Linked DNA regions of Homo sapiens: region 2 is linked to region 1. Evidence: fine-mapped expression QTL. A gene starts in region 1. The other region holds a variant in brackets. All regions are shown on one strand. Distances are between the middles of the regions.

Evidence for each region. PIP is the estimated chance that this variant, and not a neighbour inherited with it, causes the effect.
Region 2: its variant is the best candidate, but not a certain one, in a credible set for the expression of CCDC184 in whole blood (TOPMed, PIP 0.60).

Annotation. Positions count from the first base shown.
Region 1 is chr12:48,176,207-48,192,383 of GRCh38, reverse strand. It overlaps CCDC184 (coiled-coil domain containing 184), which reads right to left and starts at 8,740. Exons shown (of 1, transcript NM_001013635.4): 1 at 6,458-8,740. The coding sequence starts at 8,261. The coding sequence ends at 7,677.
Region 2 is chr12:48,220,400-48,236,576 of GRCh38, reverse strand. LOC102725258 (a long non-coding RNA gene) reads right to left here. Exons shown (of 3, transcript XR_001749122.3): 2 at 14,517-14,651; 3 at 1,861-2,966. Among named protein-coding and RNA genes, the nearest start is that of OR10AD1, 25 kb to the right of the region's middle. The variant T/C (reference allele first, on the strand shown) is at 7,293.

The DNA of each region.
Region 1 (16,177 bases):
TAAAAAGAGGGATGTTTAGGGCAAGTAAGATAGTCCAAGCATGTGATAGGTGGTTTGTGTAAGTCATGAAAAGATTTGTGAAAGGGAATTTATGCAAGAAAAGTTGTACAATTCAAAGGTTGTTAGACTTCCTAAATCCTTCATAAAATGCCACTATGACTCTTACTGTACAACTTGGCTGGCTTTACAGTTAGTTAAGGCCTGAGATATGTGGAGAATCAAGAGGAAAACAAACTATGGGACACTGCAGAAATTGTATGGCATGCTGTGGACTTCCCAGGTTTGAAATTGAAATTTGGGTCAAATTTAATCAGATTCTTAATGACATGGGCACTCCCTTCAGACATCTGAGTTACATACAAAATGGCTGTATGAGGCCGGGCACAGTGGCTCACGCTTATAATCCCAGCACTTTGGGAGGCCAAAGTGGGCAGATTGCTTGACTTCAGGAGTTTGAGACCAGCCTGTTCAACATAGCGAAACCCCATCTCTACTAAAAATACAAAAATTAGCTGGGTGTGGTGACACATGCCTGTAATCCAAGCTATTCGGGTAGCTGAGGCAGGAGAATTGCTTGAACCCAGGAGGCAGAGGTGCAGTGAGCTGAGATTGTGCCACTACACTCCCGCCTGGGCAATAGAGTAAGACTGTATCCAAAATAAATAAATAAATAAAAATAAAATGGCTGTATGATCATCACTAAAGTTTATTTCACCAATAACATTTTCTAAGATTCTAAGGGATGGTAACATGTGTTTTTTTATTCCTGGCTCTAAAATCTTATAATTCTTTAGATGTTATATACTTAAGATTCAATTACACACATTTTCTGCCTATTATAAGACAGGTCCCTTACTACTAATTCCAGACAGACTTTCCCCCACCCCACACTGTAACATCTCTGAAATGGAATGTGTCTTATAATTGATGGCAGCCTTCAATTACTGTTGGCCACACAGCAGTCATGACATAGTTGTCATTGCCTACACATGCCTGATCTATAATCCCTTGATGTTTCAGTTAATCAACCATTTAATGACCCTTGAAGGAATATTAGTCCTAGTTGTTGTCTGAACACCTTCCCTGAACATGTTCTAGCAAGATCAAAAAATGTGCCAGCATTAAAACTTGCATACTAGGTATTGTAGCCTGGAAGAATTTCCCATAGACAATACTAGAGGACTTTTTTTTCTTTATAAGAAATGCCACTTCACTAATACTCAAAATGGCCCAGAGAATAGAAATGCATGGGAAAATACATCAAATATTCTGAGTCAAAAAGTGATTCAAGTGTCAGACTCAGTGTGAAAAAAATTAAATAATACCATAATGACTCAGTTATTTCAGTGCATAGTAGTGATTTTTTTAAGTTCTATTTCTAAGCAACTCTAAAAGAGTTCTTTAAGAATGAAACTTTAAAATATAAATATAAGAAAGCATAGCGATAATTTGACAGTGTTTTTTCCTTTCTTAATGGTACCTAAAATAGGATGCCATACAGTCAATTGTGCCTTAAAGTCAATAAAATAGATACTTCAGAGACTATAAAAATGAGAAAGCAGTTCCAGCTCTCAAGATAACTGATAATCCAGAAGGGAGAATATAAAAGCACATGAGGAATAATAGAAGTAAGGCAAAATACAGTTACCATGCTCCAAATAGGTACAAAGAAAAAGATTTGGACATTTTAAGGAGGAAGAGATCACATCAGGAAAGGCTCCATGATGGAGGTAGCATTAGAGAAAGGCTTTAGAGAACCGGTAGAGTTCTAACTAACAGAGACATGATGGAGCAGGAAAGTAAAGAGAATGACCAGAAAACCAGATGCAGGAAAATGAGGGGCATTTCTGGGAAATGGTGAGTAGCATGCACATTTTAACTAGAGTTAGTTACCCTTTCTGACTTTACAGGCTTCATTAATAATTTGATGAAAATTATGAACCCTATTCCTTGAAATAAAAGCACAAATTCATAGTCAAAAAGTTTTACATGCTATTTCTGGGGATTTCCCATTCACAGCGTGAGAGAGGGAAAAGGGGCAAGGGGAGGTGGGGAACACCTCTGAGAGGCTGGTGCAGGTGGCCCAGGCTGCAGAAGTCCTTTTTCTGGAGGAGATGTGCATCTGACTGCACTTGGGAAGCATGACTGAGAGATACGGAATTGAGGCCAGAGGGCGCTCATTTAGATGGCTCACTCAGGGATTAAAGAAACTGGGATACCCCTGGGAATCATTTCCAGCTTTGACTGGGATGATATGGGCTTCTTACCTGGTGGGATGGTGTCTAGAAGATGTAGTTGAGAAATGAAATATATAGGTTAAAAAATATTCCGGGCCTAATTAGGGAGGACCTTGACTCCCCACGCCCACTGGATTTTAAACTTAGTTTAAGAAGCACTAGGGACACACAGATTTCGAGAAGAATGAATGTTCAGAGCTCTGGTTTAGGAAGATTAACCTTCGGATGAAAGGTATGTGAGCAAGGCCAGGGGAGACAAGTCAGGAGTATATTGCAGTTGTTTTTTACATTCTTCATATACATTCTATTTATTTACTTTCTCTTCTCTCCTTGCCACCCACCATTTGACAGAGAGCCAGGACTTTAGCAGGCATCTGATAGTGCTTGTTGAAGTGAAAGCCATAAATTCCCTGAGGCTCCCCTTGTAATGTCCCTATTTCCCGACAGGTGGCACCATTACAGCATTATTTACAGAGCAGGGTTGCTTCTATAAGCACAGTGCTTCCAAGCAGAAAGAGAATTCACTTTCTGGGGACAGTCTAAATGTGAGGGGAAATGGTAGCTAGAGTAAAAGATTCAAAAACATGTCTTTTGTTCAAAAATATTTCTTACCATACCAAGGTATCCTGGCTGAATTTCTTCTTCAAGGCATACAAACGAGGAAGATGCTTCTGAAAACCTGCCTTTTCAAAGATGCAAGCAATTTTATGTCTTGCAAGAAGTATACACCTAAATATATTTGGGTAAGGACTATTCCTTAGTTCTGGGAAAACTACTAGGTGAGCCATTTCATCATACATATCAAACAGAGACTATCATTTATGGTGATCCTGAGATCATGTAAAACTGAGTGTTCATGTTGGAGGCCAGCTTACATCTCTTAGGGAAATAACAATTTCTCTAAGAGCAGATTTTAGCCATACCAGGATAAAATTGTAGCTTACTTCTATGAAGCTATACATGTTTTCATCTTGAGAATAGGAGCTAAATCCTGAGAGAGGCCCCTTAAACTAGTGTGAGACGGGAGTGCCAGAAACTGAAAGAGTTGTGATGAGTTACACGCAGCACAGCGTGTGTTGGCCCCAGACATAAAATGGTATAAAGCCATGGCAGGGGCTATTTCCTCACCTCCACAACATCAGCAATGCTCCAGCAAACTCCAAGTACTAGCAGACTCGGAAGTATTGGGAGACAGGATTTTTAGAACATCATGAGTGTCAACAGAATTTGAATGTGTTGAATAGGTGATGAGTAATCAGATTTATGTAAAAAAATTCAATTCAGTGTGGAAAACTCTGGAGGAAAGGATGCCAAGAGTACCAGGTTAGGGAAAAGTCATTTCCCCTTGGGTATTTCTCAAGTTAAAAAGTCTCATTGCCCTTTATCTCAGTGATTCTTACCTTTTTTTTAACTTAATTCTTACTTTTTAAGAATAAAGTTGAAACAATGTACATTTCTCTAGAGAATGTACATACGTAATGACTTTGCATTCAATTTCAAGGGGTTGTGGCCCTCTGAAGTTCAGTTGTGACCCTTGCCCATGAGTCTGCGCTTAGGAATCCCAGCTGAAACTCACTCATCAGAGAAGAGAAGAGGTCGGGAGGCATTACAAATGAGAAATGCAAGAGGAGAGTGGGGAATAGGGAGAAACAAGGACCTCCTATCTGTGCTGGATCGTTGTGAGATGCTGGGCGCAGGTGACTGAATAAGGTTGAAGCATTGCTTTTTCTGGAGAGATTTTTATCTATCTGGGACTTGAGGGGGCAATGGTTAAAGAACTTCAAAGAGGCCCTAAGGGACTGAGGACAGTGGGCATAAGAAGGGGAACTGGAGTCAAAGGCTAAAAGACTCTGCCAGAACGTTCTACAGAGGCTAAAGAGCTAAACTGCCCTTGGCTTTTTTTGAGACATGGTCTCACTCTGTTGCCCAGGCTGGAGTGCAGTGACACAATCATGGCTCACTGCAACCTCAATCTCCTAGGCCCAAGTGATCCTCCTACGTCAGTCCCCCAAGTAGCTGGGATGACAAGTGTGAGCCACCGCGCCCACCCTAAGGTGCCCTTGGGATTCATGTCAGACTCTGGAGAATCTGAGATATAGGGAACAGGAAAGAGGCACAAGAATGGAGCTGTGTGAGAGAACACCTGGGAGCATCGGCTTCTTCCTCTTAAGGAACAGGTTCAGGAGGCCATCTTCTTGGTGCTGTTATTATATTACCACCCACTGGACTCTGGGAAGGGTCACTAACCAAAATCTGAACTGCAATTTCTTGTTCCAACTAAGAAGATGAAAAGTAACCAAAACTAAGGTTATTTCCTTTTCAGGATTGGATTAGGCTTCGATACCCTTATTTCTCCAAACTGAAGATCGCTCTCTGAAGATCCAAATAAGAGAGCAGTTAGCAAAGTGGTTTCCATCTAGGGCTTTTTAAGTCAGACAGATCTGGGTTTAAGTCCTGGCTCTGCCAAGTACTAGCCTGTGACCCTGAGCATCTTAGAGTCTGTTATATGAAAATAATAATAGTGCCTAGTTCATAGGGCTGTTGGGAGATAAAATTAGGTACAGTGTCTGGCACATAGTAGATGCTCAATCAATGATAGTTACTGTTTTTCTTAGTGCCTACTGCTGGAACTATAATAGGAACCTATCTCCCAGTCCTCAGGGACACTTTCCCACTTATATACTTTAGCAGCTCTCTCTAGGGCCCCCAGCACACATTCCCCAATCACTGCATAACTCAAGATTCCTCTGGCCAGCCTATGTGTTCAGGTCTGGCTGTCCCCCAAGACCTTTTTGGCCCATAGTTACATGACATTCATGATGACCCTTTCATTTATGATGAAAAGGTCCATGCTAGCTTAGGAATCTCACCATTCCCCTTTCCTTAGTCCCGTCTAATTCTAAATAACTAGAATTCTGTAGATAGAATCAGATAAGTAGAATTAGATAGAACAACTAATATCTAATTCTAAAGAAGAATAAGGGTTTTTTTTTTTGAAACAAAGTTTCGCTCTTGATGCCCAGGCTGGAGTTCAATGGCACAATCTTGGCTCACCACAACCTCCACCTCCCGGGTTCAAGTGATTCTCCTGCCTCAGCCTCCCGAGTAGCTGGGATTACAGGCATGTGCCACCACGCCTGGCTAATTTTGTATTTTTAGTAGAGATGGGGTTCCTCCATGTTGGTCAGGCTGGGCTCGAACTCCCAACCACAGGTGATCAGCCTGCCTTGGCCTCCCAAAGTGCTGGGATTACAGGTGTGAGCCACTGCGCCCGGCCTCAAGGATTCTTCAGATAGGAAAAGATTATATAAAAAGAAAGTTTCTAGAACCTTCCCTGGGTAGCTTTGTTTTCCCAGAGGAGCCAGTCACCACCACCCCCTACTCCAATAAAACTATAAGGAAACTAACATTTGCACAAGACTTCCTAGGAGTCCTATATATTTTTCTCCCCAACAACTTCTTGTCCCCATTTTACATATCCAGAAACTAAGCCTCAAGCACTCAACTGTTAGAACTGAGATTTAAGTCTTTAGTGCTCTCTCTTTCCACCACTCTGCAGCTACCAGCAGCTAGCGCACACACACACACACACACACACACACACACGCACATATACACACACACATGCACATATACACACGGCACCCTAGCTCATTCTGCTCTCAAATTTTGTTCAGGGGCAGCCTCAAGAAATCTCCATTGCCCAAGGGAGTAGACTAGAGCTGTCAGTCAAGCCCTCTGGGGAACACCTTACCCGGGTTCTCCACTAGAGGCCTGAGGCAGTTATTGTGGTTTCCCTTTGTGATGTGTCACTATTTCCAGAGATCCCAGGCAATCCCTCCAGAACAATACCCCCACCCCACTCCCTCCATGGAACAGGTGCAGTATCTGCCATTCCAGGACCCAGATTTGGAAATCATTTCCCAGGGCTTCACTGGGATGCTTCACTGAAAAAGAAGTCTCCTGCACATTTGGAGTTCTGGCTACTAAAAACTCATGTTAGCATGGGAGTCTCAACACTTACCACCTCCTTCCCCAGGGCAGCTTGAGGTCAAGGTCCAGGACAGAAGGGAAAGCAGGGAGAGTTGGCAATGCCTGTCCCAACCAGGGCAGGGACAGTCAACTCCTTGAACTGGAGGCAAGGAGAGAGGAGGGAAGGCATGGCCCCTGCAGTTCCCACTAAGACCCACCCTGATATCCCCTTAGTACCAGTCAGCAAGGAGGGGAGATGACGCCTTTTTATTAAGGTTAACACCAAGGAAAGCATTGAGAAGGAATACACAAAGGAGGGGGAGGGCACACAAAGTCACCACTTGAGGAGGTGGAAGGGCGGCACATCAGTAAAAGAACCTCAGGACAGCCACATGCTCCATGCCCTGGTTGGGGGAAGAGGGAGAGAAAAGCGCCATTGATAGCTTGGAGCTCGTAGAAGGGTCTGAAGCCCCTGAACCTAACACCAGAGCCACAAGCCCTGCCCCTGAGGGCTCACACACTACTACACAAGTAGACACACATAACACACACAAGACATTATGAAGGCAACACCGAGAGGCAGTGGGCAAGGACATATTGACAGAAAAAGGAACTGAAGTTAAGCAGGTGTAGCCAGGAGAGACAGTTTTTGGCTGCGGCCCCAAGAGTCCCTCAAATGTCCCCTAAATCTGGGCTGCTGCTGAGCACCCCCGAGTCTCTGCCTGTGAACCGGGCTCTTTGTTCTCTAAGCCCCAGGGAGTGGAAAAGCAATCCCAGATGAAGTCAGTGACAAGGCAGGATCCGCTCTGCATGCAAAATCCTAGAGGTTGAGCTATTATGTCTTCATGCACATTCATAGCCAGCTCCTCCCAGCCCAGGGGCCCTTGGAACCCCATTCACCCAGATTCCTAGGGCTGCAGTTCCCTCCTCAAGCTTCCTTTACCAATCAGCAGCCGCAGAGATCTGTGAGGGGGAGAGGCTTCTGCAGAGCACTGAATATCTTGGATTTCAGCAGAAGGGTAAATTTCCTGTTGCCAGAACAAAATACCCCCAATTCCTTAATTTCCAGGTAAATTGTTAGAGATTATTTGCCATGGTCCTAGGTAAGTCCTTTTTCAGAATAGAAAAAGCAGAATTTTATTTACACAATTCACGGGTTCTCCTGTTGTCTGGGAAGGGGGAAAGGACAGGATAGGGATGGATGGGAGTCCAGAGATGGGCGCTTCCTCTCCCGGAGCCTCACCTTTCCGCAGTTCGCTATAATTCGCTTAGTTGGGCAGAAAGAATTCTCGATGCTCCCAAAGTCCTTCACCCTACAAATCCTTCCTCGAGGGAGTCTCTCTCTGCCTGACCCACAAGAGCAGCTGTCCAAGTGAAGCATGCCGCACCGCGCCGTTCAGTCCCCCTCGCGTCATGCACTCGGAAACCCAAAGACAGCCCGGGAAGGTAGTGCCCCACGGAGTCCCCTCACAGGGAGGCCTCGCCCTCCAGTTGCAGCAGGGTAATGTCGGGCATGTCGAGGGGCTCCACAAGTGGCCCGTCCCCCCCAAGGAGACCAGCACAGGGGCTTTCGGGGCGCTCACAGTGACTGGAGGGTGTGGCGGGGCTGGGCATCTCCTTCTCTTCTTCCTCTTCCTCCTCGTCCTCGGGATCGCGACCCAGCAAGCCGCTGTCCCCGATCCCAGGCGAAGGAGTCTCCGGCTCTTGGGGGTCGCTCTGGAAGCTCCCCTTGCCGCCGACCACGCCCAAGCCGCCCTGGCGGGGCGCAGTGGTCATAATCTGGCACATGGAGACGATGGCTCGCTGGTTGGCGCACACGTCGTCCGAGAGCACCTGGATGTGCGAGGCCTGCTCGTCCAGGGCCCCCCTCATGGCCCTCACGTCCTCAAACAGGGCTTGCAGCTGGGCTTTCAGGTGCTCCATCAGTTCCTTCATGCCGCCGTTGTACTCCCCGGAGATCACGTCCCCCACTGCCGGCACGGTGGACACCTCCAGGGGCGCCGGCATGTCGCCGCCGTCCTTGGTCATGATCTCCAGCAGACCGTCCTCCATTGAGTGGCAGAAGCGGGTGGCGGAGGCTCTGGGTCGCGTCCAGCCCGGCCTCCGGGGTGGGGGAGGGGGTGGAGGGGGAGAGGTCCCGGGAGGGGCTAGCGGGAGCCGAGGGAAGCGGAGGCTCCCGAGACTGGCGGGGAGCCGACGTGAGAGACGAGTCCTGGGCAGAGGGCGCAGGCAGGATCGCGGGAGGCCGAGAAGAGGCTGCGGGACGAGGACCCGGCGAGGGTCCCAGAGCCGGCGTCTCTTGGGATCGCCCCGGGACGAAAGTGCCCTGCCCTGCCTCGCCTCCCGGATCGCGCCCGTGTCAGCGCCGCCCTCTGGGCGCCACAAGCAGAGAGCGCCTGCCGGTTCCGTGGGTCACAGACGCGCTCGCGGAGGGGTCCGCGTCCAGGCTGAGGCCAGCGGCGCGTCGGACTCGGGACTCCCCCAGGCCATTACCGGGCAGCGCCCGCGAGTGTGGCAGCAGCAGCTGGGGTGGGTCTCCCGGGGGTGTCGCGGATGCTCCTCTGTTTCCAAGGCGACGCACGGCACGTAAATGACGTGTGTCTCCATGGTAACCAGGAAGTGGCGAAGAAAAAGGGAGGATGGCTGGAAGCTGCAGTGGGGCTCTGGAGTCTGGACTAGCGGGGTGGGGGGAGGAGAGGGGACGCTACAGTGGCTTCGGCCAAGGCTGGAAAGAGCGTGTGGTCGCAATGTTTAATAGGGAAGTATGAGAGAGCCGTCTGCTGCAGAAACCTCCAAGTCCGGGAGAGATCGTCCCTCCCCTAGCCGGGGTATGAGACCCAGCGAGACTGCCCTGGAAAGATTTTTCCAGCCCGCATTCCTTTCTCAGAGGATGGCGCTAAAGTCGAGTCCTGCCTCCCTGTCCTCCAGCGATGCGCAGGAAAGCGGAGAGGGTAGAGAGGCTGTTGCTAATGATCCCAGAGTTGAGCTGGGGCACGGTGGCGCTCTGGAGCCGGACCCACCGGGCCTGACGGTGCAGAGGCAGGAGGAGGGCGCTACGGAGGTTTCTGCAGTAAATCAGCCCTCTAGCTATAGAAATCACCGGAGCGGGGGAAGGATGGGACTCCCTCCTTTATGAGACCCTACCGCTCCTACGCAGGTCTCTGGGAGTTTGTCCCAGATGGGGAGGCCAAGTGCTTAAGTTTTGAGAATGAAAGCTCCATAAGGGGAGAGATTTTTGTCTCCCCTGCACCCTCCATCACGGAATCCCCAGCTCCTAAAATAGTGCCTGGCACCTAGTATGTAGATGCTTAATATAGTTATTGAATGAATAACAAAAACCACCAAGTCCCACGCTCTCATCCAGAACTCCCCAAGCCAAACGTAGTGGGTTTTAGGAGACCTGAATTCAGTTTCGTTTCTGCCACTTATTCATTCAGCGACCTTGGCCACATCATTTTCCTCATCTGTTAGGGAATTGGACTGGATAATCTATAATACTATTTCTAATTCTGAATAACAGTCTGCATCATCTCACAGGTGAAAAGGTAAACTGTTGACCGTTGTGTGGAGGGTATGGATGGGGGGACTGTGTGTTAGAGTAATTCCCGCTCTCTCTTTCAGTGCCCAAGTTCAGACATACACTGAGTATCCCCAACCTTTGTGACAAGCCCTTTCCCTATTTAAGGGGTGGAGCAGGAAGGGTGGAGGAAGAAGAAAAATTGTCTTTAATATACGTAGATGATTGCAGATTGAGAAGGAATCAGCACCTGGGCAGAGCACAATAATTAATAATGACCCTAGGAAATTAGGGAAGCCAAGTGATCGGAAGCCAAAAATGAAGTTCATAAGAATAAATCTGGGAAAGAGAAACAAACTATATCACTTCAAGATAGAGAAGAACTACGTAAAGGTGAGTGTTTTGTAGACTGGCGGTTCAGTGACAGCAAATGTGTTACCTTTGGGTTTCCCTGGTTATGTGCTTGGTGATGAAGAGTGAGGCTGGCCCAGGGAAAGTTTTGTGACACTAGAGGACTGCTTGACCTATACCAATCTTACTGCTTTTAAAATAGAAACAAGTGGGGACTATCCTAAATGACCAGCAGCAGAATGTTTAAATAAACTAAGGCAAAATTGCTGATACATAAAGTATTATGCAGCCATTAAAAATTTGATTTCCCAAAACAAATATATGAACAAATTTTAAAAACACAGTATTGTATTTTCTGAAACTAATGATTCAATTCTATTTGCTTGCTCATTTCTTCCTTCATTCTACAGATTTCCAGCACTCTCACCTTGCTTAGGACTCCTACCTCTGCTCTGTACCCCACACGTGGTAATAACACCTTAGATTACTCCTGAAACTCTGGCTCAAGAGAGGACAGAAATGCTTTTCCTTGGTTTCCATAAGCACAGCTGAAGTGGGCTGGTGTTTACAAAGAGACTTTATTAAAAACTATAGGAAAACTAGAAATAGAAACAGAACACATGAAAACAGCTGAGCTTACACAGCATAAGTTTCTGATTATACTACAGCAAGCATGTTCTCAGGGCTTATAGGTCCAACCCTGCTTTCATCCTTCCGAGGAGAGCTCTGCTATAGCCAGAAAAGACTGGCATGGCTTTCAGACTTTCTGTCTAGGTCTGTTACTTTACATCTCTTGACAAGCACTTCACATGGAAGATTTCATCTTGCCAATTCACCCTTCAGGTATATCCCTACCTTCTACCTACAAAGAGTGACTCTGTCCCAGTGGGGGACCTCTCATTGTTGAAATCCCATAAGCTTACACTAAGCATAGCCCCCATACAGGAGGAGCTATGGTATGTCATCATACAAGGCCTTTTGCCACTATTCTTGAGGATGTGAAGGCTTTCAGCATAAGATTACATCATGCTGTCCAGAGGTGCTGGCCATGAAGTCCACTGAGAGTACAAGGGATCTGAGCCCAGAGGGAGGGGAAATTATTGGAGAAGCACAAAAGGCCATGGGAAACATGTGCAGAGATCAAGCAGTTTGGCTGGTCCAGTCAAGTTCCAGGTCAAACATTTGAGAGCCAAGGGTAGGTGGGAACTGGGGGAGTGGACCAGTAGCAGGATTTGAAAATATAGGAAGGTGGCTGGGTGCGGTGGCTCATGCCTGTAATCCCAGCATTGTGGGAGGCTGAGGTGGGTGGATCACTTAAGATCAGTAGTTTGAGATCAGCCTGGTCAACATGGTGAAGCCCTGTCTGTACTAAAAACACAAAAATTAGCTGGGCATGGTGGTGGGCACCTGTAATCCCAGCTACTCCAGAGGCTGAGGCAGGACAGTCGCTCAAACCCAGGAGGCAGAGGTTGCAGTGAGCCAAGATTGTGCCACTGCACTCCAGCCTGGGTGACAGAGCAAGACTTAGTCGAAAGAAAGAAAGAGAGAGAGAGAGAGAGAGAAAAGAAAGAAAGAAAAAGAAAGAAAGAAAAAGAAAGAAAAGAAAGAAAGAAAGAAAGAAAAGAAAGAAGGAAAGAAAGAAAGAGAAAGAAAGGGAAAGGGAAGGGGAAGGGGAAGGAAAAGAAAAGAAAAGAGAAAAGAAAAGAAAAAGAAAATATAGGAAGGAGACATTGGTGCATCTGATAGAAAACCAGATCATTTCAGGAACTCTGTGTGAAAATGAGATGAGGTAGAAAAGTCTAGTCTCAGGAAAATAAGGAGAATAAGGAGAACAGAGGCAGAGCCTCAGTCAGCTAGATGGGTTACAGGCCTGGGCCCTCTGGATCCCAATGCCCTATAGTTAGTTGCATGGGTCCATTTCCAAGCAAAAGGTGGCCAGATGTATACCCCAGCCATCCTACTAGAATATTCAGAGGAACTGCCACATAATAAGAGAATATAACCCCCGCACAGCTTCTGCTTCCTGCTTTTCTATTATCCTCTGGGAATCCCCTTAGCTATTCTCTTCATCCCACTCTTATCAATCTGTGATAGGGAGAGACCCTCATGCTATCTACATATAGGTTTCCATCAGGTACACCTAGTTTCAAACCTCATATTCTCACTAAAATTGGGATTTGGAAGAGGCTCTGCCATTTTCCTCTGTCTGGTGTCTCGTGTATCTCTAGTTTCTATTTTCTATAGCTGGTGTATTTTTTGCACTATAAATCCGATGATGCTGGCTAGACTCAGGTCTAGAGCAATGATTTAAAACAAGATATAGCTGACTGCTGTACCTTAGGCGCCAAATCCCAGACAGTATCCCCCAAATATAACTTTCATGAAGCTGACCTGTTTTGTGGCCCATCACAGCTTGATATCACACTCAAACATATCCAATAGCCAAAAGAATTAAAAAGAAATTTAGATTTTTATTACAGTCTCTGGGCAAACTTTAAAGGGGTTTACATTCTTAGTGCACAGCGAAACATCTGAAACTTGTCTTCCTTCCTTCTCTATTTGTTCCACACATTATGGCATAGCTGTTGCTGCTGGTCTCTCTCTCCCCAAACACTCCCACACTTTCTCTCAAGCCTGGCCCTTGCTTTCTCACTCCCTGGCTCTCTTCACTTCTTGGATGTATTCTTTTTCTCTCCTCCAAGAAGCTTCCTGTCCTCACATAAATCAGGCCAAGCTTATTTTAGCTCTTTTGATTCTGTTCCTCATTCCCCCAATCTGCATAAGTACTGGGAATCCCAGCTATCAATTACAGGGGTCTTCTCAGAGGATAAAAAAGATGGAGAGGCTGAGAATATTCGCATTGTTGTGGGTTTTGCCTGTCACATAGGCTAGTTTTTCTCAGCACCAGAGAGTGGTTTACCTGGCATTACAGCCAATCTGCTTTGTTCATCTCCCCGACGTTTGCACAGAGAAATGGACATGGTGGTTTGCAAAGACCCTGGGCCCTTATGAGCCTCTAACTGGAGAGGGGATCCAACTGTCCACACCCTCAAGATTATTTAGTGTCATAGACATGGCCGTGTGGTGAGCCACCTACCCACACCTCACGTAAGGCCTGAACTACACTTCCAGTTGCTTGCTCTGTGACTTCAAACTATTTTTAGGAGTCTTTAAGGCTACCCCTAACCTCTTATTTCTCTTCCATATTAATTTAACTCAGAGCAAGAATTCTAGGGGACCTTCCAACTTCTCATGCAATATGAATCTCCACTGACAATAACCCCCCATTCCAATTAAACCTGTTTTGCCAGTGTCATCCCATCTCCCCTTTCTGCACTGCCCCCTGCAGCAGCTTCTCTTAGATCAACACTTGCAGAGCCTTTTCCCCCTCTCAGTGCATATTCAAACATGTATTCAGTATCACTGTGATGTCACCAGTTCCAACCCAAGTCTCTAGGTAGCTGGCCATGGACACAGAAGCATTCAGAACTCCAGAACCACCAATGATCCCTGGTGCATGGTCTCAAGCACCTTCCATCTTTTCCATAAATTATTTTGCCCCCAGAAAGTTGCCATTTTTGCAACAGCTTAGAGCCTGGTTTGGCCCCAAGTCAGGCACTGACAGTGCTGCACCACCTGAAAAACCAATTTCTAGTTCAATGGAGGCAATTTTGTTTGACCAATTGCCTCTCCCACAGTATCAGTCCAATTTGAAGGAAATCATGTCCAAATATCTATGGTAGGATAGGGACTATGATATGTGTGCCATAAACTTCCCTTCTATTAAAGGTATTTTTAGGAATTTAATGTCCCTCATAGCTGACTTATGCAAACTTCCAGGACCTTCCTTGCCTGTCATATCTTGAGGAAGTCTGTGCTATTCTATCCTACGCAATTCTACAAAACTTTGTAGGTCTCCCTGTTACTAATACATCTAGTTATACTAAGTCCATCCCTCTCAGAGGCCCCCCCAAATAATGTCAAAAGTTATTTCTACCACATTCTCAAGGGCCAGCGAGGCACTATCAGTTACAGTTTAGCAGCCACTGTGAGGGTGCATTCTGTTTCCATTGCCCAAACACAGATGGAGACTATACTAGTATTTGTGATGATACCATGGACAGGGGCCCCAAAATGTAATCCATGTCTTCAAAGTACTGTAGAAGTGCTGGATCTTAGGCAAAAGTGAGGAGAAGGACCCTTTCCCCCAACTTTTCCACCTAGAACCCCGAGGCCCCTATTTTAAGAAGTCTTGCATAAAAATAGCTCCATCTTCTACGGTTGACCACTCGTTCACAGTTCATAGGCACAATGCCTGCTCTTTTGTTTGTTTTAAAGCACCAGGATCACTTTCATGCTGGAACTCTAATCCTTTTGCTTTGCTTTATTCTTCTCCACACCAGTTATCAATATCTGTTATCCTGTATTTTTGTTTATTTATTTTATGTCTTATTTATTTATCTTTTACTCCCAACTAGGGTGTAAGATCCATTAGAGCAGGGGGTTTGTTTTCTTCACTGCCTTATCTGTAGCACCTAGAATAGTGCCTGGCACATGGCAGATGCTCAATAAATATGTGTTGAATAGATGAATGAATGAAGTCTAAATCCATACCTAGAAAAAGAAACAACTCCCTTAAGGACATGTAGTCTGCAAAGCTCCAACTCTGCCTTTTCTTCGAGAACATTTTAGCTTTTTCAGTTTCAACCATCTACTTCGGTAATCTATGGCTTATGGTCACACTATTAAGTGGCCCTGTTGGTGGCCTTTCTTGAACAAAGGAATACTTACTTCAGAGACAAATGGAAGTCTCTATTTCTTACAAAATAGAAAAGTGCTTGCAGCTTTGAAATGAGAGCTGTCACCACCCCTCTAACCTCCCTTGGGATATTCCACCACTATCCCCATCGAAGTCTCAAAGATACCAGGGCCAAGTTTTGTCAGAACTCAGGGTCAAAGAAATGCACGCTCTCTGCTCCCCTCAGCATTACCCGGGAATGGGATGATATCAAGCCTGTATCTTCATACTGCATGCTAAGGAGAACTCCTGATTTATATTCTTATTCTGGTGGAGACAGCCTCAGAAAAAGTACCCTGTTTCTGGTTGTAAGATTAGTAGCTAACTGAGAAAGGGACATTATGAACATAGAGATTACTATGCTTTAAAGCTTGTGTATGTCTTCTCTTTGTGTTCCTAAACTGGTAGACTAGGGTGATTTAGGGTAGTGCTATCACCGAGTTACATGTTTTACTGTAATAAAATTGAGTCCTTCTTGTCCCTTGCTGCCTCCTTTCCTTGCTTCTGTTCTAAAACCAAACCAGACAAAAACTCCCCATATTGATCAAATATATAACAAAAAATACATAAAGGTCAGCCTTCCCAGGATAGTAAAACTAAATTAAAACCAAACAGCAAACATGGATCAGAAAAATAATATTCCAGAAATTGAGGTTAGTCTCTAAACAACCTAAGTGAGACATTTTTGGTAAGGTCTTGTTATTCTCCACAGTGTTGTCTGTGTCTCTAAGACGCAGAAGGGAACAGTATGTCAGGTTTACTGGTAATTGCCTGGATCAAATGAGTTAAACTGGGATAGATTCTCCTCAGAGGATGATCCTGAGTCACATATCCAATCTCTCATTCATCCCAGTTCATCCATCACCATAGCACACATGGGCTTCCAGCTGCTTCTTATACTATTAAAAACCAATTCCCTCTTACCAAAGGCATTAGTAGTTTTGCTGCTCATTAGAACAATGAGTATCATCCAAGACACCTCCAGGTATATTAAATGATAAACTGCTCACAATTTCACATTATTCACACTGAAATCACTGAGTTTAAACTGCAGGGAGGTCTGTGGGACATAAGCTCCTCTGCTTCATACTTGTGGACTTAAACTAGTGTGTTAGGGGAGAGTCTCTTCCTAGAAAGGAGAGATGGTGGAGAAAGATTCTAAGAGATGGAGATGATGTAATTTGAAACTTACTGCTGTAATTTGAGACCTAAGACCTAATGGAAGAAAGCAAATAGTCAACAGATGTGAGAGAAGGAAAAGCTAGAAAGAATTTCTCAAAGGATTTGTAACTCTGAGACAAA
Region 2 (16,177 bases), 44 kb before region 1:
CAGTTTTTATCTATTTTCAGTTTTATTGTAACCGCCCAAGGATTCATTGTGCCCACTGCCCAGATAAAGCCGATTCATCAAGACAGAGGAATTGCAATAGAGAAAGAGTTTAATTCATACTCAAATCAGTTCAGCTGCCTCTGCATGAATTAAACTCTTTCTGGAAATTCAGAGATTGGAGAGACTGACAATTAAGAGACTGGGGTTTTTTAAGGATAATTTGGTGCATAGGAGGCCAGGGACTGGGGAGTGATGATTGGTCCCATTGGAGATGAAATCATAGGGAGTTGAAGCTGTCTTCTTTGCGCTGAGTCAGTTCCTGAGTGGGGGCCACAGTACCAGATAAGCCACTTTATCCATCTGCGTGGTGGCAGCTGACCCATCAAGTTCAGGGTCTGAAAAATATTCTGAGCACCAATCTTAGATTTTACAATAGTGATGTCATCCCTATTGTAAATGGGGAGGTTTGGAATCTGTGACCTCTCGCTGCCTAACTCCTAAACCATAATTTCTAAACTTGTGGCTAATTTGTTAGTCCTATAAAGCAAGAAGAGGGTTTGTTTCAGGAAAGAGCTGTTATCATCTTTGTTTCAAAGTTGAAACTATAAACTAAGTTCCTCCCAAAGTTAGTTTGGCCTATGCCCAGGAATGAACGAGGACAGGTTGGAGGTTGGAAGCAAGATGGAGTCACTTAGGTCAGATCTCTTTCACTGTCATAATTTTCTCACTGTTACAATTTTTGCAAAGGTGGTTTCATTATTTTATATTATTTCTAGTTTTTTAAATTAGTTCTGTTATAGTTAGTATTTATTTCTTAGCTAATTCATGATAAAATTGTTAAATCTCTCAGTATTGGTCTCTTGCCCAGAATCATCTGTTACAAAGCCAATTTAATTCTTCTTATTATTTTTTGGACCTTGTATAAACTGTCCACGACACTTGTGGCCCAAAGCGCAAATATGCAGATAAAAGAGATTGCCTCTAAAAAAATAAAGCTGCTTTCTCTAAAAGAAAGGGGAAAATGCTAGGTTTGGGGGGGAAGGCTTTCTTGAGAAGATAGCATATGATCCGCATCACAAAAGACGAGAAAGAATTCACCAGGTGCCCATAGAGTCAAAGAACATTCCATAGAAAAAGCAAGTGTTAAAAACATGGAGGCAGGGAGAGGAGAACACATCATAGCACCAAATAAAAACTGAATGAACAAATACATCATCACTTCTAATATGAGGTTATAGAAAGTAAAGACAAATGGATGGGTTTGTGTATGGTAAATAGTAACTGGATTGTAGGATACATGGGAAGGGTGAAGGAGGTTTTAAATAAGAACATGAAGGGCTATGGAGATGAGTGAGTGGACGATGACATTCAGGCTCCCACTTAAATGAGTGGATGTACCTTGATGCTGTTAAACAAGAAAGAAAACACAGAAGGACATGAAGGCAACTGTCCATTCGTTGCTCTTGGACCATCTTGCCTTGAAAGATCTGACACACTGGAATCTGTTTTTTTTCCAAAGACCCCAGGAAAGATTTTTCACTGCTCCTTTGTTCAGTCATTTTGATGCTTTCAAATCCCTCATTAAAATCAGCAAAGGCCAGGAGCAATGGCTTACGCCTGTAATCCCAGCACTTTCGGAGGCTAGGCAGGCAGATCACTTGAGGTCAGGAGTTTGAGACCAGCCTGGCCAATATGATAAAATCCCATCTCTATTAAAAATATATATAAAAAAAAAAATTAGCCAGGTGTGGTGGTGCACACCTGTAGTCCCAGCTACTAGGGAGGCTAAGGCAGAAGAATTGTTTGAACCCGGGAAGCGGAGGTTGCAGTGAGCCGAGATTATGCCATTGCACTCCAGCCTGGGTGTCGCAGCAAGACACTGTCTCAAAAACAAAAACAAAAACAAAACAACAACAACAAAAATCAGCAAAATATTCCTGTTGTCTAACCGACTAATACTCTTGCTGTGTTTACCTCCATTTCCCATTCTGTCTTGAAAGAAATGGAGAACAGCTAGTTACCATATTTTAATAGGTGTATTTCCCAGGATGTTTTGTCTTAACCTCTCAAGTCTCTCTTTTCTGTATTCTGATTCAATCCCCTCCGTAACATATAACTCTTTGTTTCAGGGATTATTTGATCAGCCTGTTGGCCAGTGGTATTATGGCCACTGAATTTTTTAAAAATGCAAAATGTACATGTTTACTTAGTTGTTCTTACACTTTGCTCCATGCCTTCCAACAATTTCTTCTTTAGTTGTTTCTTTTCTTATTTTGTGGAAACTTGAAATTTAATGAGGAAATAAGGACAGCAAGTTATGGTAAAAGAGCCCATGAATATTTTGCCTGAGGAAAAACACTAACATGGTTAATCAGTGTCTTCAAATCTCAAAGGGTCTCCTTCTACCCCACCATAATAAATAATTCTTTACCATGGATTAAGTTCAAAGAATGAGGAATATAACTATAAGGAAGTGTGAATTATAGTGTGTGTGTGGGTGTGTGTGTATTCCCACCCAAGTGGAACATTAATGGCATAACCTACCTTAGGAGGTTGTGGTGTCTCTGCCCTAGACACCTTGGCGCCGTGGACGAAGTACTCTAAAAACTTAGAAGAACCTAGTGTGAGTCTCATCACTTTCATTTACTAGCTACATGACTTTGGGGAAGTTACTTTATCACTCTGAGGCTCAATTTCCCCATCTGTAAAATGGAGATAGTATACATTTCATATAATTTTATGAGTTAGATGGGATCATATATATGAATATGCTTTGTAAATTATAAATTATTATAAATAGGTAAATAACCTTTATCTGAGAAAACATTCTTCTGGAATGGCTTGAGAGATTTCATGTGGGATTATATATGCTTCACTTCTGAAGAGGGTCCCAACATCAGATGTCCTACCTGGGCTAGCTCATCTGCAAGCTCCATGAGTCCTCTCTCGCACCTGCTGCAGTGATTCTGCAACAAACAGATCATTCCCAGTCAGAGCAATAGAAGGAGGTAAGACAAGATTTCCAAAAAAATTGTCCCATTTTGTGTACATGCCATGATATATGTAACCAGTGCCCAATCTGAGGGATATGAAGACTACTTCTAGGGCAAAGATGAACAGTAGGGTCAGAATTGTTACCTGTTATTTCCTCCTAATGGAAAAAGTTTAGGTAGAAATTCTGGCCTCCCTACAGGCTGAGGCAGAGACATGAAGAGAGGGGCAGAAATGCACCCTATTCCCAGAAATGTCATCTTCAAATAATAATTTTGCCTGTTCATTTTCATTCCAAGTGATGTAGTGGAGCCAGCTGGTACCAGCTCTCAAGAGCCAATTGTTAAATTTCAAGAGTTTTGAAAATTGATTGTTAAACATAGCCATTATTAATATTTTAAAACGAAGGTAATAAATACTTAAAATTCATCATCACTTCCTAATTTTGTCACTATATTTTACTATTATCTATACTCTCAAGATTATTTATGTCTATTGTATCCGTATGGTAGGAAAGCCGTATAATAGCAACCTAACATATCTCTTCCCAGCTCCATGATTAGTGGTGTCTCATGGGTAATTTGAAATAAGTCATTGTGGAATTGTTTATACCATGAAAATTGGCAAATGCTACAAATAAGGTACCCCCCACCCAGAGCCATTTGTTAAACACTTAACCAGCACACCACTCATTTAATTCATTTGTCTAAATGCTTTTGGCTAGTACTTGCAGGGCACCCAAAAGCTCAAAGCAGTGTGGAGAGTTAGTTGACAATGCAGCTTCTGGAATCAGACTCCTGAGGTTTAAATTTGAGCTTTACCACTTACTGTATACCTTGGACAAGTTACTGACCCTTTCTTTGTATCTGTAAAATGAGGATAAAAGAAGAACTCCTACCTCATAGGATTACTGTGAAGCTTAAAACGATTACTACTAATAACACATACAGAACAAACAATACCTAACACACAGTATGTAATTACTTTGATTTAGATTAGTTATGTTAATTTAGTTTTAATTATGACATGGAAGCATCCTTCTAGTCCTATTTTACTAAAAAAATTTTAAGAACTGGGTATCAACATCAAATTTTATCAAATGCCTTTTAAACATCTATATAATTGATTAGAAGTTTTTCATCTTTGAAATATTAATATAGTGAGTTGTATTAGTGGGATTCCCCCTATTAGAAGAACCTTTAATCCCTCAAATGAATTTCACCTGGTCATGATGTACTATTCTTTGAATGCACTGCTGAATTCCATTTGCTAATAATTTAGTCTATTTCACCATTATTAATAAATCACCTTAGTTATAATTTTCTTTTGTATAATTTTTCAAGTTTTAGTCTCAATGGTTTGATGACTTTGTGAAAGTAATCAGCGATCCTTATTTTTTCTGTCCTTGCAAACAGTTTCATTAGCCTTGAAAATATCCGATTGCTACAAGATTTAAAATTTACCTATGGAGCTATCGGGGCCTGAAGCTATTTTGAGGCATAGCCTTTTGTTAACTTCCTCTATCTGAATGGCTCTCAAAGTTGGTTGCACATTGAAATCACCTGGGGAGCTTTTAAAAAATACTGATGCTATTGTGAAAGACAGTGTGGTGATTCCTCAAAGACCTAAAGACAGATACTGGGTATATACCCAAAGGAATATAAATAATTCTATCATAAAGACACATGCACATGTATGTTCACTGCAACACTGTTTGCAATAGCAAAGACATGGAATCAACATAAATGCCCATCACTGATAGACTGGATAAAGAAAATGTGGTACATATATACCATGGAATACTATGCAGCCATAAAAAAGAATGAGATCATGTCCTTTGCAGGGACATGAATGGAGCTAGGGGCCACTATCCTTAGAAAACTAACACAGGAACATAAAAACAAATATCACATGTGTTCACTTATAAGTGGGTGCTAAATATGAGAACTCATGGATATATAGAGGGGAACAACACATGCTGGGGCCTATTAGAGGATGGAGAGTGGAGGGTGGGAGGAAGGAGAGGATCAGGAAAAATAACTTATGGGTACTAGGCTTAATACCTGGGTGATGAAATAATCTGTACAAGAAACCCGCATGACACAAGTTTACCAGTGTCACAAACCCGCACAGGTACCCCTGATCTTAAAATGAAAGTTTAAAAAGTAAAAATAAATAAATAAATAAATAAATAAATAAATAAATAAATAAATAATACTGTTGCCTATGTGATGTGGTAGATACATTAATTAGCTTGATTTAATCATTTTGCTAACATATCAAAACATCACATTGTTTTCTATAAATATATAATTATTGTCAATTAGATTTTCTTCAAATATTAATACCTGAGTGTTTCTTTCCTGGTTTTTTTTTTTTTTTTTTTTTTTTTTTCACAGAAGGGGTCTTATTCTGTTGCCCAGGCTGGAGTGCAGTGGTGCAATCATAACTCACTGCAGCCTTGAACTCTCAGGCTCAAGTGATCCTCTCCCTTCAGCCTCTTGAGTAGCTGAGTCTGCAGGTATGTGCCACCATGCCCAGCTCCAATATGTTATTTTAATTGGTCTGGTATGCATCCTAGGGATGGGGATATTTAAAAGCTCTCCAAGTGACCACAATGTAAAGCCAAGGTTCAGAACTACTGCATTACATTCATTTCACTCAGTATATTTAATTTTGTTTCTATCTTTCATTCAACAAATTTTATTGATTCATATTAACCCAGAAAATTACCTACTTCTTTCTGGCTTTCAAAGTGATTGCCATAGAGTCTTGCAAAGTACTGTTGCATAATTATTTTTATTTTCTTTGTGGCTGTGATTATTTCACCTTTTAAAATTTGTGTATTTTTGCTCTCTTTCTACCACTTCATTTTTAATTATTAGATAGACAGTAGTTTGTCTATTTTATTGGCTTTTTTTTTTTTGAGACGGAGTTTCTCTCTTGTTGCCCAGGCTGGAGTGCAATGGCGCGATCTTGGCTCATCGCAACCTCCGCCTCCAGGGTTCAAGCGATTCTCCTGCCTCAGCCTCCTGAGTAGCTGGGATTACAGGTATGTGCCACCACACCCGGCTAATTTTGTGTTTTTAGGAGAGATGGGGTTTCTCCATGTTGGTCAGGCTGGTCTCAAACTCCCAACCTCAGGTGATCCGCCCACCTTGGCCTCCCAAAGTGCTGGGATTACAGGTGTGAGCCACCATGCCCGGCGTTTATTGGCTTTTTCCTAGGACCAATTCTTGAATTCATTTACTGATTCTATTCTATTTCTGGTTTGTTTTTTTTAATTTTTTTATTTCCACAGGTTTTGGGGGAACAGGTGGTACTTGGTTACATGAGTAAGTTCTTTAGTAGTGATTTGTGAGATTTTGATGCACTCATCACCTGAGCAGGATACACTGCACTTATTTGTAGTCTTTTATACCTCACCCCCACCCACTCTTTCCTCTGAGTACCCTAAGTCTATTGTATCATTCTTATGCCTTTGCATCCTCATAGCTTAGCTCCCATTTATGACTCAGGACATACAATGTGTGGTTTTCCATTCCTGAGTTACTTTACTTAGAATAATAGTCTCCAGTTCCATCCAGGTTGCTATGAATGCCATTAATTCAATCCTTTTTATGACTGAGTAGTATTCCATTTTATATATATATATATATATATGTATATGTGTATATATATACGTATATATGTATATATACACATATACATACATATATAAGTATATATACGTATATATACACATATACATACATATATAAGTATATATACGTATATATATACACATATATATACATATATACGTATATATATACACATATATATACATATATATATACGTATATATATGTATATATATCTCACAACTTCTTCATCCACTCATTGAATGAGGGACCTTTGGGCTGGTTCCATATTCTTGAAATTACGAATTGTGCTGCTATAAACATGTGTGTGCAAGTATCTTTTTTGTATAATGACTTCTTTTCCTCTGGGTAGATACCCAATAGTGGGATTGCTGGATCAAATGGCAGTTCTACTATTAGTTCTTTAAGGAATCTCCATGCTGTTTTCCATAGGTTGTACTAGTTTACATTCCCACCAGCAGTGTAGAAGTGTTCCCTTTTCACAGCATCCATGCCAACATCTATTCTTTTTTGATTTTTTGATTATGGCTATTCTTGCAGGAGTAAGGTGGTATCACACTGTGGTTTTGATTTGCATTTTTCTGATCATTGGTGATGTTGAGCAGTTTTTCATATTTTTTGGCCATTTGTATATCTTCTTTTAAGCCAACTTTTTTA[T/C]GGGACTGTTTGATTTTTTCCTGCTAATTTGCTTGAGTTCTTTATAGATTCTGGATATTAGCCCTTTGTCAGATGTATTATTATGAAGATTTTCTCTCACTCTGTGGGTTGTCTGTTTACTCTGCTGATTCTTCCTTTTGCTGTGGAAAAGCTCTTTAGTAAGTCTGAGCTATTCATCTTTGTTTTTGTTGCATTTGCTTTTGGGTTCTTGGTCATGAAGTATTTGCCTAAACCAATCTCTAGGAGTGTTTGTCCAATGTTATCTGCTAGAACTTTTATAGTTTCAGGTCTTAGATTTAAGTCCTTCATTCATCTTGAGTTGATTTTTGTATAAGGTGAGAGACGGGGATCCAATTTCATTCTCATACATGTGGCTAGCCAATTATCCCAGCACCATTTGTTGAAAAGAGTGTCCTTTCCCCATTTTATGTTTTTGTTTGCTTTGTCAACGATCAGTTGGCTGTATGTATTTGGGTTTATTTCTGGATTCTCTATTCTGTTCTATTGGTTGATGTGCCTATTTTTATACCAGTACCATACTGTTTTGGTGACTATAGCCTTATAGTATAGTTTGAAATCAGTAATGTGATGCCTCCAGATTTGTTCTTTTTGCTTAGGCTTGCTTTGGCTATTTGGGCTCTTATTTGGTTCCATATGAATTTTAGGATTTTTTTTCTAGTTCTGTGAAGAATGATGATGATATTTTGATGGGAATTGCATTGAATTTGTAGATTGCCTTTGGCAGAATGGTCATTTTCACAATAATTGATTTTACCCATCCGTGAGCATGAGATGTGTTTCCATTTGTTTGTGGTGTCTATGATTTCTTTCAGCAGTGTTTTGTAGTTTTCCTTGTAGAGGTCTTTCACCTCCTTGGTTAGGTATATTCCTAAGTTTGTTTGTTTGTTTTGTGGCTATTGTAAAAGGGGTTGAGTTCTTAATTTGATTCTCAGTTTGGTTGCTGCTGGTGTATAGCAGAGCTACTGATTTGTATACATTAATTTTGTATCTTAAAACTTTGCTGAATTTATTTATAAGTTCTAGGAGCTTTCTGGATGAGTTTTTAGGGTTTTCTAGGCATATGATCATATCATCAGCAAACAGCGACAGTTTGACTCTTTACCAATTTGGATGCCCTTTATTTCCTTCTCTTGTCTGATTGCTCTGGCTAGGACTTCCAGTACTATGTTGAATAGAAGTGGTGAGAGTGGGCATCCTTGTCTTGTTCCAGTTCTCAGAGGGAATGCTTTCCACTTTTCCCCATTCAGTATTATGTTGGCTGTGAGTTTGTCATAGATGGCTTTTATTACATTGAGGTATGTCCCTGGTATGCCAATTTTGCTGAAGGTTTTAATCATAAAGAGACGCTGGATTTTGTCAAATGCTTCTTCTGCATCTATTGAGATGATCATGTGATTTTTGTTTTTAATTCTGTTTATGCGGCATATCACATTTATTGACTTGTGTATGTTAAACCATCCCTGCATCCCTGGCATGCAACCCACTCGATCATGCTGGATTATCTTTTTGATATGCTGTTGGATTCAGTTAGCTAGTATTTTGTTAAGAATTTTTGCATCTGTGTTCATCAGGGATATTGGTCTGTAGTTTTCTTTTTTGTCATGTCCTTTCCTGGTTTTGGTATTAGGGTGATAGTGGCTTCATAGAATAATTTAGGAAGGATTCCCTCTTTCTCTACCTTGTGGAATAATGTCAATTGGATTGTTACCAATTCTTTGAATGTCTGATAGAATTTAGCCGTGAATACATCTGGTCCTGGACTTTTTTTTCCTTGGTAACTTTTGTATTACCATTTCAATCTTGCTGCTTGTTATTGTTCTGTTCAGGGTTTCTAATTATTCTTGATTTAAGCTAGAAAGTCAACAACGAAACAGTGGATTTAATCTATGCACTAGAACAAATGGACTTAACAGATATTTACAGAACATTCTACCCAATAGTCACAGAATATACATCCTATTCATGAGCACATGGAACTTTCTCCAAGACAGACCATATGATAGTCACAAAACAAGTCCCAATAAATTTAAGAAAACTGAAATTATATCAAGTACTCTCTCAGAACACAGTGGAAAAAATCAGAAATCAACTCCAAAGGAACCTTTGAAATCATGCAAATACATGGAAATTAAATAACCTGCTCCTGAATGATCATTGAGTCAACAATGAAATCCAAATGGAAATTTGAAAATTCTTTGAACTCAACGGTAATAGTGACACAACCTATCAAAACCTCTGGGATACAGCAAAGGCTGTGCTAAGAGGAAAGTTCATAGCCTTAAATGCCTACATCAAAAAGTCTGAAAAAGTACAAATAGACAATCTAAGGTCATACCTCAAGGAACTACAGAAACAAGAACAAATCAAACCCAAACCCAGCAGAAGAAAAGAAATAACAAAGATCAGAGCAGAACAAAGTGAAATTGAAACAAAAAAAATACAGAAGATAAATGAAACAAATAGCTGTTTCTTTGACAATATAAATAAAATTGATGGACCATTAGCAAAATTAACCAAGAAAAGAGAGAAGATCCAAATAAGCTCAATTAGAAACAAAATGGGAAATATTACAACCAACACCACAAAAATAAAAAAGATTGTTCAAGACTACTATGAACACCTTTACACGCATAAACTAGAAAACCTAGAGGAGATAGATAAATTACTGAAAACATACAACCCTTTTTCTGTTTTCTTACTCAACAATTTCTGCTTTGATCTTTACAAATTTTCTGCTTCTGGTCTTCCCTTTGTTAATTTTGTTTATCTGCTTCTAATCTCTTTGGCAATTTCATTTTGTTTTGTGTCATTTAAGTTCATTTATCCTTATTCTTTTCGTTAAGTAATAGAAGTATTTCAGGCTATTAAATTTTCCTCCAATAAATATCTGTGTACAGTATTCGTTAATATATAATACTTTTATCTGAATTTTTTAAGATCACTTACAATTGTTTTGAGTTCCTGCTTAATATAAGAGTTGTTTTTGGATGGCTTCTTAGTTTTTCAATTTTCAAGTAGGTAATGTCAGTTTTATTATTGTCACGGAATCACTTCTGAATTGGTTGAACAATCCTTCGAAAACATCTCCTTGGTAAAACTTAATTGAATATGTTTAACACTAGACACTTAAACAATAGGAAAAGTAACTGATCTATTGAGTTTTATAAACAGAAGAACTGGCACCAGATACCTTTCCATCCCAAGCAGATTGATCTCCTGGCTTGAACTTTCTTGGGAAGGGAATAGTTAGGACTCAATGCATCATCTAAAAGGATGGATGGTGTCCGTCAGGTACAGAATCCCAGGTGTGCAACCAGGAGTGAGGCTTTTTTCATTGCTTCCTTCCATGCTCTGTCAGAAGCAAGTTCACTGTAAGGTCATTATGGTAGGCAAGGGTCAGCAAATTTGTTCTATGAAAGGCCAGATAGTAAGTATTATAGATTTCGTGTGCTGGGTTACTGATATTGCATATGGGACATACTCATAATAAAAAATTGTTTATTGTTTATCTCAAACTCAAATTCAACTGGGTGACTTATATTTTTATTTGATAAATCTGGCCACCCTACTTATAAGCCATATGGTCTCTGTGGCAACTACTTAGCCCTGCTGTTGTAGTGGGAAACAACCATAGACAATACTTGAATCAGTGGGTGTGGCTGCATTCCAGTTAAACTTCATAAAAATTGGCAGTGGGCTATATTTGGCCTGAGGGCCATGGTTTGTCCACCTCTGCGTTAAACCACTGTTTTTCAACATTTTATGTGCATCAGAATACCATGGAGGGTTTTTTAAAACACTGATTTCTGAGCCCCATCCCTGGAGTTCATGATTCCCTAGATTTGGGATGAACCTCAACAGTTTGCATCTCTATCAAACTCCCAGGTGATGCTGCTCCTGGTGGTCTGTAGGCCACACTTTGAGTATCGTTGCATTCAAGGAAATGCCTTATTGCCTTTTTGTTGCTAGAACCCACTTAGAGTAACATAGGCTTTTTTATTACTATTTAAAGACTTCATCAATCTTATGAGACAAAAACTTCTAAATGCTGAAATTTAAATAGTCTCATGTCCAGAACTTCCTAGCCAGCAAGGCTTCTCTAACACATATGGAAACTTTAGGCTAATTATAAAAAGTCACTCCCTCTCAGGGAAGAATTAGAAAAAAGGCACAGCTTTTTTTTCCTTCAACTTTTATTTTAAGTTGAGGGGTTCATGTGCAGGATGTGCAGGCTTGTTACATAGGTAAAGATGTGCCATGGTAGTTTTCTGCACAGATCATCCCATCACCTAGGTATTTAAGCCAAGCAACCATTAGCTATTCTTCCTGATGCTCTCCCTCCCCCCAGTCCCCAATGGGCCCCAGTGTGTGTTGTTCCCCTCTGTGTGTCCATGTGTTCTCATCATTCAGCTCCCAATTATAAGTGAGAACAGGCAGTGTTTGGTTTTCTGTTCCTGCATTAGTTTGTTGAGGATAACGGCTTCCAACTCCATCCATGTCCCTACAAAGGACGTGATCTTGCTCCTTTTTATGGCTGCATAGTATTCCATGGTGTATATGTACCACATTTTCTTTATCCAGTTTATCACTGATGGGCATTTAGGTTGATTACATGTCTTTGCTATTGTGAATAGTGCTGCAATGAACATACACAAAGGCACCACTTCTTCTGAATTCACACAGCCCCTCGCCAGGATACACAGCTTGGTCAGTTGAGTGCAGGCCAGATTTCAGCATCTATTCTTCCCTTCAGGAGCCTCTATGCAGTGCACAGACTGCATGACACAGCTGGTTGACCAGAAGAATGTTATCTACAATTTACTTAATCAAAATAACACATTCTAAATTTAAAATATTCCATATGAATTTATTTGTTTTCTTGCAGTGAAAAGAAAAACATGAAAGAATATTCTTAAGGAAAATCCCATGCACAAGCTGATACCTGCTCTCCTTTCCTCATATCTCAAGGGGAGAAAATAAACAGAAGTTTAAGAAATGTTTAAGAAAATTTAAGAAATAAACAGAATTTTAATGTCTAGTTTTAGTGTAGTGAATATGGTCTGAACTGTTTTGGCTCTTTGGAATTCAGTTTTCTTTATAGTCTAATATGTCAACAGTAGTATTTTGTAAATGTTCCACGACCCTTCACAAGAAGGTATATTCCCTATTTGGAGATGATAGATTTTAAAATATTTCTACTGATAAACATATCCTTTTCTGTAGTAATGTCTATATATCATGGGTTCTCTATATTCTTACTTATCTTCCTGATATAAGAATGACTTGGGATGTAGGAGAATACCAATGAGGGAAGGGAGAGAGTTTCCATGTGTCATTTTGTATCCTGGCCACATAGCACAATACTGACAACATAACAGGCACTCCCCTATCAAATGAATGAGCTCTTTTTGGCTGTAAAGTAGGTGGAGTGCAATTGGCCCCAGTGATCCATTCAAATAAAAATGGATTTCTATCCTCTTTCCTTTCTCCCAACTGGGCTTGTAGTATATTCCCTAATCTGGAGTCAGCTATAATTGGTGCATTTTAATTAGAAAAACCAGTCAATATTTTTCTCTGATGTTTCTTCTCTTTGGTTCCAGTCTTATTCATTGAGGTTACACAGACAAAGTAAATTCTCTCTTCTAAATGGAAAACCTGTAAACATCCATGTTTGGCTTTCAGCAAAAGAACGATAATAAAAATTAGAAAAATTTGTGAAACCCAAAATAACAATGAAACTACATATAATTTTGTGGAATATAACTAGGGCAGTAATTAGGGCAGAACTTTCTCTTAAAAGAAGTTAAAATTTTAAAAATTAGCAAACAACTTAATCACAGAATAAAATACATTATGCAAGGAAAGGGAAAGGAAGAAAAAATGCACATAATAGATGGATTGAACAAAATTCAAAGATTGATTAAACTAATAAAGGTCGAAGAAATTAATACTTTGACAGTTCTCTGGCATGATTTATGTTATAAAAAAACAGACTTAAATAAACAATATTAAAAATGAAAGGGGCACAGATGTTGCAGACTGAATTATAAGGGGGGCTTCTGCTTCTGATATTTATAGACAAGGTAATTTGGATCAACCATCTCAACAAAAACAACCAAAAGCTTGACACATTTTAAAATATCTACAATAAAGGCATTAAAGAACTAAAAATGCAGTGAAGAATTTTAGAGCCAAGATCCAGGAGCATTCACTATGTATTTAGCCACATTAGAAATAGCTGATGTCGCCAGGCGTGGTGGTTCACGCCTGTAATCCCAGCACTTTGGGTGGCCGAGGCTGGTGGATCACCTCAGGTCAGGAGTTTGAGACCAGACTGGCCAACATGGTGAAACCTGCCTCTACTAAAAATACAAAAATTAGCTAGGAGTGGTGGCGGACCCAGCTACTCGGGAGGCTGAGGCAGGAGAATCGCTTGAACCCGGGAGGCAGAGGTTGCAATGAGCCAAGATCATGCCATTGCACTCCTGCCTGGGTGACAGAGCGAGACTCTGTCTCAAAAAAAAAAAAGAAAGAAAGAAAGAAAGAGGGAGGAAGGGAGGGAGGGAGAGAGAGACAGAAAAAGAAAGAAAGAAAAAGAAAGAAAGAAGCAAAGCAAAGCAATAGCTGATGTAGCTGAGGAAAGAACTGGTAAAGTGAGTGACTCATGCCTGTAATCTAGACACTTTGGGAGGCTGAGATGGGAGGATCGTTTGAGTCCAGGAGTTCAAGACCAGCCTAGGCAACATGGCAAAACTCTGTCTCTACAAAAAATACAAAAAATTATCGGGGCGTGGTGGTGCAAGCCTGTAGTCCCAGCTACTCAGGAGGCTGATGTGGGAGGATAGCTTGAGCTCGGGAGGTCAAGGCTACAGTAAGCCATGATCATGCCACTGCACTCCACCCTGGGCAACAAAGCAAGACCCTGTCTCAAAAAAAAAACAAAAAACAAAAAAAAAACAAAAAGAAAGAAAGAATTGGTAAAGATGAAGGTATGTCATAAAGAAGATGAAAGAAAGAATGGATAGAGCAAAAGCAATATTTGAAGAGAAAATAGCTTGGAATTAAAGAGGCCTTAAATATCTTCAAAATATTTTATTTATAAAAAGAAAGCCATAGCTTGACACATCACTAGAACTTCTGAAAATGAAAGGCAAAGAGAAAAACTTAAGAGGAGCCTGAAAAAAAAAAAAAAAGGCAGATTACCTTCAAAGGAACCACGATCAGGTTGGCAGTGTTTTTCTCAATGATGCAAGTCAAAATATAAAATTTTCTTGTTTAAGATTCCATTGTAGCAGACTAGAGAAGGGTTGTAAGTCACAGTGATATGCTCCTGCTGGCCTGGAAGAAAACAAACATCCATGCTGTGAACTGCCTGTGGGGGCCGTGTGGCCAGGAACTCTAGGAGCTGAGACCAATCCCCAGATGACAGCTAGTAAGTCATACGACTGCAAAAAAATGATTCTGCCAGCAACCAGTGAGCTTGGAAGAAGACCAATGCCTCAGATGAGAATGGCAGCCCCAGATGACTCCTTGATTTCCACCTAGTGAGACTGAGCAGAAGACTCAGCTAGTTCATACCCAGACTCCCAACCCATGGAAATGGTGAGATAATTTTCACTTGTAATAGTAAAGAAAAATTGTAAGATAAATTTTAAGATATTGTAAGATAAGATAAAGCAAAAAAATCATATGATAAATTTTACTATAAGCCACTAAATTTGTGGTAACGTTACACTGCAATAGAAAACTAATATATGTTTTAATTTTTTTTTTTTTTTTTGAGACGGAGTTTCACTCTGTCGCCCAGGCTAGAGTGCTGTGGCGCGATCTCGGCTCACTGCAAAGTCCGCTTCCCGGGTTCACGCCATTCTCCTGCCTCAGCCTCCCGAGCAGCTGTGACTACAGGCGCCTGCCACCACAACCGGCTATTTTTTTTGTATTTTTAGTAGAGACGGGGTTTTACTGTGTTAGCCAGGATGGTCTCGATTCCCTGACCTCGTGATCTGCCCGCCTCGCCTCCCAAAGTGCTGGGATTACAGGCGTGAGCCACCGCGCCCGGCTGTTTTAAATATTTTTAAGAAAATACTATGGAAAATTTTATGCCATTAAATCTGATAATGTAGATAAATGAAAAGTTATTAGAAAAATATAATTTTCCAAGTTGAAGAAGAAATAGAAAAACATAAACACACATATAAGCATGAGATTAAATGAATAGTTTAAAAATATTTCTATAAAGCCAGACATATGATTTTAAGGCAGATACTATCAAACAATTAAGGAAAAAAATGCTAACTTTGACTATACTAGAACAAAAGGAAGTACCTCAACCTTTTTAGTGATGTAAATATAACTTTGAAACTAAAATTTGCCCCCGGCAAAAAAGATAATTTCACTCTTGGACATAGTTGCAAAACTCCTAAGCAAAATTTTAGCAAATTGTATATTACAATATATTTAAAAGATTATACCTTATATCATGACCAAAGTAAAGTTTATCCCAGTAATTCAAAGTTGATTTTTTATTTTTATTTTTTAATTTAATTTAATTTTTTTAGAGACAGGGTCTCTCTTTGTCACCCAGGCTGGAGTGCAATGGTGCAATCAGCCTCAACCTCCTGGGCTCAAGTGGTCCTTCTGCCTCAGTCTCCTGAGTAGCTAGGACTACAGGCATGAATCACCATGCCTGGCTAATATAAAAAAATTTTTTTTAGAGATGGGGTCTCGCTGTATTGCACAGGCTGGTCTCGAATTCCTGTCCTCAAGTGATCCTTCCACCTCAGCCTCCCAAAGTGCTGGGATTACAGGCATGAGCCACTGTGCCAGCCTTGAAGTTGATTTAACATTAAAAAATGAATTAATGT